Regions from separate parts of the Homo sapiens genome. Here all the other regions are linked to region 1. The links come from fine-mapping of genetic effects on gene expression. A gene starts in region 1. Each other region holds a variant in brackets. All regions are shown on one strand. Distances are between the middles of the regions. Region 1 holds the start of NBDY (negative regulator of P-body association). Region 2 has its middle 25 kb from the start of FAAH2. Region 3 holds the start of SPIN2B (spindlin family member 2B).

Region 1 (2,770 bases):
CAGAGATTCCTTTTCTGATAGTAAGAATAGGAATCTTAAAATACAAATAGTAGCACTTGATGGATATTGGAATGAAGTATATGCTCAGCATAACATTTAAGGCCCTGAAGCACTTTATCTTCACCTCCTAGTCCTTCTTGTAGATTCAAAATTATAGCCAAGCTGTTTCCAGAAGAATTCTGCCTTTTCTCTGGAAACCCTCGGCCTGAAAAGCATTCCCTGCCCCTCCACATGGCAGATGTCACTCAACCTTTAAGGCCCACCCAAAGTTCCTCCTTCCTTTTTTTTTTTTTTTTTTTTTTTTTTTTTTTTTGAGACGTAGTTTTTTGCTATTGTCGCCCAGGCTGGAGAGCAATGGCGCGATCTCGGCTCACTGCAACCTCTGCCTTCCAGGTTCAAATGATTGTCCTGCCTTAGCCTCCCGAGTTGCTGAGATTACAGGCGTCCACCATCACGCCTGGCTAATTTTTGTAACTTTAGTAGAGACGGGGTTTCACCGTGTTGGCCACGCTGGTCTCGAACTCCTGACCTGATCTGCTCACCTCGGCATCCCAAAGTGCTAGGATAATAGGCGTGAGCCACCGCGTCCGCCCCCCTACTCCTCCTTTTTGATGGCTCATGATTACTACCAGGCAGTGACTTGGTCCATCCTCCACCCTTCCTGAATACCTTGAACAAGCAAACATTATGGCACTTGGATTTGACTATCACATTGTAGCTTTAAAAAAAAAAATTCAACTCTCCTGCCTTACACAGAGAAAGACATACACTTCTGAAGGCTGGCCTTCAACAGATGCTTTTTATTGGCCTTGAACCAGCCTTTTTTTTTTTAACAAAAAAATTTTCCAATGCACGCAAAAGTAGAGAGAATAATATAATAAATCCCTACATATACATCACCCAGCTTTAAATTATCAACTCATGAGCATTTTTATTACACTTTCCCTCCACCTTGGCACCAATGACTTACTTTCAAGCAAATCAAAAGATTCAAGTCTATTTCTTAGAAAATATAACTACAATTATTTCATCTAAAATATTACAAATAATTATTTAATGTCGTTAAATATCCATCATTTCATTCAAGCATATTTTGTGAAAGAGCTGCTTAATCCCTGCATGTTATTTTTTCTATTTTGAAATCATGGAAAGAACAGGGAAAAGGGGAAGGAAATTTGTGAGAATGCATAAATAAGTTTCAAAGAGCCTAGATGTCCTAGATGAGAAAGAATCTGACCTGGTTTAGGGTGGGAGAAATTTATTTCTCTACTTCTCCGGAGGAGGAGGGTGCGACTTCAGGCCGGCTGATGCAGGAGGAGGTGCGGAGGGTAGAGTGGTACTACCTCCGTTGGGAGTTCCTTCCGGATAATCCCAACGCGGAGCGAGGAGGCAGCGCTTTTTTGGAGGCTTGGCTTCCCGTGCGTTTCCAGGTGGGAGAGTGGATCTCCCGGAGGCACAAGGTTGGTCTCCCATAAGGATTACAGAAACGGGTCGTCAGTTTTCTCCGGTGGGCCCTGGCAAAGCCAAGAGACCTGAGATGGCGGCGAGTCCCCTCCAGGCACAGAGCTGGCTTCCTCCTGTTTCGCTCTTACCGTATTTCCTGTATCCTGAGACGTACATCCCTTCTCCGCCTCCACCCCTCCTCCCTACCCCATTCTATTTTAATGTTTCTATTAGGATGGGTGTTAAAAACCGATGTCGTTATTTAATATAGTGTTTTTCCATCGCGCCCCACCCCCACTAAATGTAAATAAATTTATTGAGAATTTAATATAATTTATGCAATTTTAAGATGAGAAGAAATTCAAGTTTACCTTTAAGTGGTAAACTCTGAATGGCTTATATGTGTGGGAGGGACGCGGGGGTGGGCGGTAACCAAATAAATTATTGAAGAGCTTTACAAGCCAGCTGCAGATGCACATCACAGAGCTGTGAAACTAGCTACAAACATTTAAAAAGCAATATGCAAACATGTAAGTTGACTAGAGTGCAGAATAGCACACTAGCACAAACCATGGAAATTGAATGTGGAAAATGAATTCACCGTATGTCATAGAATCTAAGATCATTTTTTCTTTATTTTTTAAGCAAATTTGTAATTTTTGAAGGCTTATTATGTTTTTCCCCAAATTTGAATATCTAGGAAATCTCTGCGACCTAACAATTGATGGTACACTATACTTTAGTTGGCAGCTTTTTTTTTTCTTTCTTGTAGGTATGGAAAATAATGACCCATCTTACTAGTGATGATATGTTATATTCTATGATTTATGGTAACCAGAAGAAAGTACCACGTGTCTCAGAAGAAAAGGCTTCTGGAACTTCTTAGACCTTCATTATTAAAATAGCCTACACATCCATCTCCCTTTAGCTATGGACAAACTAGATCACACTTCTTCAGCTTTGTTCTCAGTGCTTTTTGTTTGTTTTTTGTTTTTTTAAATGGAGAGAGCTTAGTCCTTAATGCCAGAGTAGAAGTGCCTGTTAAACTCTGCTGTTTACAAGCTCTGAGCTCTTTGAGTAATTATTTAAATTCTTGGAACTTTGGTTTCTAGGCCATAATTTTTTCCTTGCAAAGGTGTTTCCATAACCAGGGATAATACATGTAAAGCATTTACTACTATAACTATCTCTTATCTCCACCCTTCTACCTTCCTCCAAGTAACCAGCACAGCCCTTTACACAAATTAGGTACTCAGTAAATATTTGGGAAATAAATGACCCCGTGGTTTTGTGCCAAATGCTACTAATAAAGACAGAAAAGTCAGAT
Region 2 (2,770 bases), 530 kb before region 1:
ATCCAAATTAATTAGAGCTATTAGTCTGAGATTTCCTCATTAGACTATCTTTATTTAGATTTGTTATCAGAGTAATACTACCTTCATACAATTAGTTAGAAAGTGTTCTCTTCCATTTTCTGAAAGAGACTTGAATTTGGTGTTATTTCTTTTTTAAACCTTTGGTATAATTCTCCATTGACACTATCTGAGTTTGGAGATTTCCTTGGGGAACAATTTTTAATTCATGAATATAATTAACTCTTAAATTATAGGGTTATTCAAATAATTTATTTTATATTGGGTGAATGTCTTTACCTTCTCTCACTTATAACAATTAATCTAATAATACAATTATTGATATAATTATCTTCCCTATCTTTGCAGAGAAATTTTATAGTTTCATTTATTTCAAGTGTGTTTTGAAGCACATATCTGAGTTTTCAGTTTATTCAGTTCCAAGTTAGAATATATGAGGCAAAACAACACACCAGTATACTCACCAATGTGTCATTACTCAGGTCCTGAGAGTCCGAGCTGGTCTGCCACCTTCTCTTCACCTTTAGGAGTCTTTTTATGTTTGTTTTAGATACAATGCCTGAGATTTTTAGTTGCATTTAGTAGCAGGAGTAAAGAAAAGTATATATATATATATTCCATTTCCAATAAGTTAAAATGTCATATCCTATATTATTTGACTCAGTTGATGACACCAAGTCACGTAAACAATAAATACAGATGTCATACTTAATTCTTCTCTTTCAGCATCCACATATACTCATTTAATGAAATTGATGTTTCCTAATTTCCATATTTTATTCTAATTTCTTTCTTGCAACATCACCAGCAATGCCTTAGTTAAGCCTTTGTTATTTCTCATCTTAATTATGAATTAATCTCATAACTAATATTCCTGCTTCCTAACTCATTACCTTTAAACTTATCTTTCACATTGAACTCAGAGTGATTTACTTTAAGGTAAACACATCAAGATAACAAATATATTCATAACCACCCACAATTTTTTTCATGTTCCGTATATTCCACCTCCCATCCCTGGCAACAATTAATCTGATTTGTTTCACTTTATATTCGTTTTGATTTTCTGGAATTCTGTATAAATATAGATTTTTTCTTATTTTTTTCTTTTTTTTTTTTTTTTTTTTTTTGAGACAGAGTCTCGCTCTGTTGCCCAGGCTAGAGTGCAATGGCACAGTCTCTGCTCACTGCAACCTC[C/T]GCCTCCTGGGTTCAAGTGGTTCTCCTGCCTCAGACTCCTGAGTAGCTGGGATTACAGGAACGCACCACCATGCCCAGCTAATTTTTGTATTTTTAGTAGAGACAGGGTTTCACCATGATGGCCAGGCTGTTCTCAAACTCCTGACCTCAGATGATCCACCCGCCTTGCCCTAACAAAGAGCTGGGATTACAGATCTGGCCAAATATAGATTTTTTCACTCCACAAAATTGTTTTTTAGATTTATCCATGTTGTTTAATGTATCTATAATATGTGCCCTTTAATTGCTCATTAGAATCCCACTGCATGGGTCTACGAAAATTTATTGATTATTTCTCTGTTGATGGACATTTGTGTGGCTTCACGTTTTTATAATTACAAGTGTAATTTTATAATTATTTAATACAAGTCTTTGTATAAACAAAAGCTTTATTATATTTTAGAAAAACATCTAGAAGATTGGGTTTTATGGTAGATGTATGTTTAATTTTGTACATAGCTACTAAAATAGTTTTAAAACTGTTTTAGCAATTTATATTCCCAACAGCAGTGTATGAAATTTCTAGTTGCACTACATTCTCACCAACACTTGTGGTTGTCATTTTTTACTTTTTAGCCGCCTTGTGAGTGTGATATATTATCATATTAAAATTTTAATTTGCACTTTTCTGATGACTAATGATACTAAACATATTTTATACACTTATTTACCATTCATATATATATACACACACACACACACATATCCTTTGATCCCTAGTGTTTGTTTAAATTTTTCACTCATTTCTAATTCTTGACTTATTATTACTGACTTCTAAGATTTTTTGTAGATTCTTGATATGAAGTATTTTGCTAAATACATGTTTTGCCATTTTCTCATTTACATCACTGTGTTTTCAAGAGCAAATCATTTAATTTTGATGAACTCCAATATATTGATCTTTTGTTTTATAATTTGTGCTTAATTTTGTTCTGTTTAAGAAATCTTTGCCAAACCTAAGATCCCAAAAAATTTTACTATCGTTTCTTCTACACTTTTGATAGTTTTTAGCTCAATAACTCAGTTCAAGTTAAGTTTTGTAGCTGATGTATGTTTAGGATCAAGATTCATTTTTAATGCAATTATTTTGGCACATTTTGTTGAAAATATTACCATTTAAATTAAATTGTCTTGGTACCTTGGTGAAAAAGCATTTGCCCTTATATGCATGGGTCTATTTCTGAACTCTATTTTCTGTTTCATTCATCTGAATGTCTTTCATTACAAGGATACTCTGCTGTATTGATTACTATGGCTTTATAATAGGTCTTGACATAAGGTAATAGTTTTTCAACTGCGTTTTCTTCTTTCAAAATTATTTTGAAGGGTTTTTAAAGTAAAAAATGCTAGGAAAATCCTTAAACATATCAATGATTGTTTGAAGTTATATTACACTACATATATTTATATTATTCATGTGTTTACTCTGCAAATACTAATATAAACAAATTAGTAATTCCAAATGGTAAATATTATTAGATTTTAAGTGTGATATTTCAGTCACTATTATTAAAAT
Region 3 (2,770 bases), 390 kb before region 1:
GGGCAAAGGATATGAACAGACACTTCTCAAAAGAAGACATTTATGCAGCCAACAGACACATGAATAAATGCTCTTCATCACTGGCCATCAGAGAAATGCAAATCAAAACCACAATGAGATACCATCTCACACCTGTTAGAATGGCGATCATTAAAAAGTAAGGAAACAACAGGTGCTGGAGAGGATGTAGAGAAATAGGAACACTTTTACACTGTTGGTGGGACTGTAAACTAGTTGAACCATTGTGGAAGTCAGCGTGGCGATTCCTCAGGGTTCTAGAATTAGAAATACCATTTGACCGAGCCATCCCATTACTGGGTATATACCCAAAGGATTATAAGTCATGCTGCTATAAAGACACATGCACACATACGTTTATTGCGGCACTATTCAAAATAGCAAAGACTTGGAACCAACCCAAATGTCCAACAATGATAGACTGGATTAAGAAAATGTGGCACATATACACCATGGAATACTATGCAGCCATAAAAAATGATGAGTCCGTGTCCTTTGTAGGGACATGGATGAAGCTGGAAACCATCATTCTCAGCAAACTATCGCAAGGACAAAAAACCAAACACCGCATGTTCTCACTCATAGGTGGGAATTGAACAATGAGAACACATGGACACAGGAAGGGGAACATCACACAATGGGGCCTCTTGTGAGGTGGGGGTAGGGGAGAGGGATAGCATTAGGAGATATACCTAATGTAAATGAGGAGTTAATGGGTGCAGCACACCAACATGGCACACGTATACACATGTAACTAACCTGCACATTGTGCACATGTACCCTAGAACTTAAAATATAATTTAAAAAAATAAAAATGAAAATAAAATAAAAAGCCCTCACTGAAACTATGACATATCTGCAAATTGCTTTCCATAAAAATTGTATAAACTTTCACTTGCATCAGCACTAGATATGAAGCTTTTTCATGATCAATGACATTAAGTAATATTTTAATGTTCTTTCATACTTTGACTGTTGAATCGAGATTATTATTACTTCTATTTTTCCTTGTAGATGTTATTTTATTAAGTGTAGTTGTTCTGTTAACATCCGACTCATCCCCTCATTCAAATACCATAAGTATCTGAATAAGAAAGATACCATTAAGCATTGTTTTGTTTACAGAGTTTTTGGTTGGTTCATTTGCTTTCTGTTCAATTTTATTTTGCTGCTTTTTACCTTTTAATAAATCAAATATTGATACTGGTACAACATTAGTATACAACCTTTCTCAAAATATTTAAATAATTATTTCAACATTCCTTAAAGAATACCCAACGTTTCTCCACTGATTTATAAAACTATAACTTTAATTATTTCTTATAAAGTTATTTTTTTGCAAAGCTTTCTATTCCGATACATAGATCTGATTACTGGTTATTGTGGAAATATTATGTCAAATGCCCAGTACTGGGAGAAAAGCCAAATTATAAATCACTTTAAAATTGAGTTTTACGGACCAAGTGCAAGATATGTAACAGGTGCTCAATAAATATTTGTTGAATGAAAAAAT[C/T]GATTAGAAAACATCTAATTTCCTGGAAAAATTAATAGACATGAATTGCAGATAAAAAACAAATCCCAGTTTTGCAAAAGTTTAGGAAAAAGGAAAAAAAACTATGAGCATTAATATTTTGCTGTGAGGCCCTCAAAAATGGGAGATGGGACTGCAGTTGATGATTTTCCTCTTAATATTAATTTCCTAAAATGTAGATAGTGTTCACGTTGTACATGCAATTATCTTGCAATAAAGAAAAGGAAAAAAAAATCCCTCGAAAACAAAAACAAAAATGCCAGGAAATATCAGTCAGCAAAAATTAGGTAGAGACTGGGTCAAAATGGCAGACTTACCATAGTGAATTTCTCTGTTCCAACTCCAAATCCTTTCAAAAAGAGGAAAGACATATTTACGTGTAAAGAATAAATCCATAAGGGCATGGGACGGTGCAGGGGCAGGGGTGGGCGCGGGGGTGGGCGCGGGGCGGCAGCAAGGCGAATTCCAAGAAGATGGAAAGCAGGGCAGGCAGACTAAGAAGGTGGAGGTGGGAACCAAGTGGCCCTGAAACGGGTGAGGAAGGGGCCACAGGGTTCCGAGGACGACTGTGGCACGAACTACTCCGGATTTGGAAAGAGGCGGAGTCAGAGCCCATAGCTCCGCCGGGGCTACAGGCTGTGTGGTGGGCGTGGGAGCCTGGTGGAGAGGAGAGCCGGGTGTTTGACAGGAAGAGGAGGCCTCTCTCTGGGCAGGAAGCTGCGCTACGGAAAGAGGGAGGAGACTGCCGCGGCGACAGCAGGGACTGGTGGAATCCCGATGTGGCTGAGGGGCCGCCACCGCCAGCAGGGAGGCGGAGGGCTAGCGAGCCAAGCGGTGGGGACGCCGCTGCCTTCCTCTTTGCCTGTCTCGCCGCCCTCCTAGACACGCTCCTCATCTACGGATCCTACCCTCCCCGCTCTTGCAAGCATTCACTCGGCCGGTCGCCTGCTGACCCTCCTTCGCCACAGGCTCGTAGCGGAGGCAGCAGCGAGGTGTCCGATTTGGGCACGTGAGGCCCGCGATCCCCGGCGGTGGACGCCAGGCAGGGCAAGGCCATTAGTGGGCGCCAGAATGGAGAGGGGGATGGGAAGGAATCCAGCAGGAGACATGGGGTGGAGTTGGGCGCCAGGCAAGGGTGGGGTGGGGGAGTGCGGTGAGCAACATGAAAAGGGGGTAGGAACGGGAGCCAGACAAGGATTTGAAGGTGAGCGCCGGGAAGCA

Evidence for each region.
Region 2: its variant is fine-mapped to the expression of NBDY in whole blood (TOPMed, PIP above 0.99).
Region 3: its variant is fine-mapped to the expression of NBDY in whole blood (TOPMed, PIP above 0.99).

Annotation. Positions count from the first base shown.
Region 1 is chrX:56,728,057-56,730,826 of GRCh38, reverse strand. It overlaps NBDY (negative regulator of P-body association), which reads right to left and starts at 1,584. Exons shown (of 3, transcript NM_001348129.2): 1 at 1,238-1,584. The coding sequence starts at 1,473. The coding sequence ends at 1,267. RefSeq lists an enhancer at 1,464-1,543.
Region 2 is chrX:57,259,931-57,262,700 of GRCh38, reverse strand. It overlaps a transcript of FAAH2 not described here. Among named protein-coding and RNA genes, the nearest start is that of FAAH2, 25 kb to the left of the region's middle. The variant C/T (reference allele first, on the strand shown) is at 1,216.
Region 3 is chrX:57,121,064-57,123,833 of GRCh38, reverse strand. It overlaps SPIN2B (spindlin family member 2B), which reads left to right and starts at 2,286. Exons shown (of 2, transcript NM_001006681.2): 1 at 2,286-2,596. It also overlaps a transcript of FAAH2 not described here. RefSeq lists a silencer at 1,999-2,118. The variant C/T (reference allele first, on the strand shown) is at 1,532.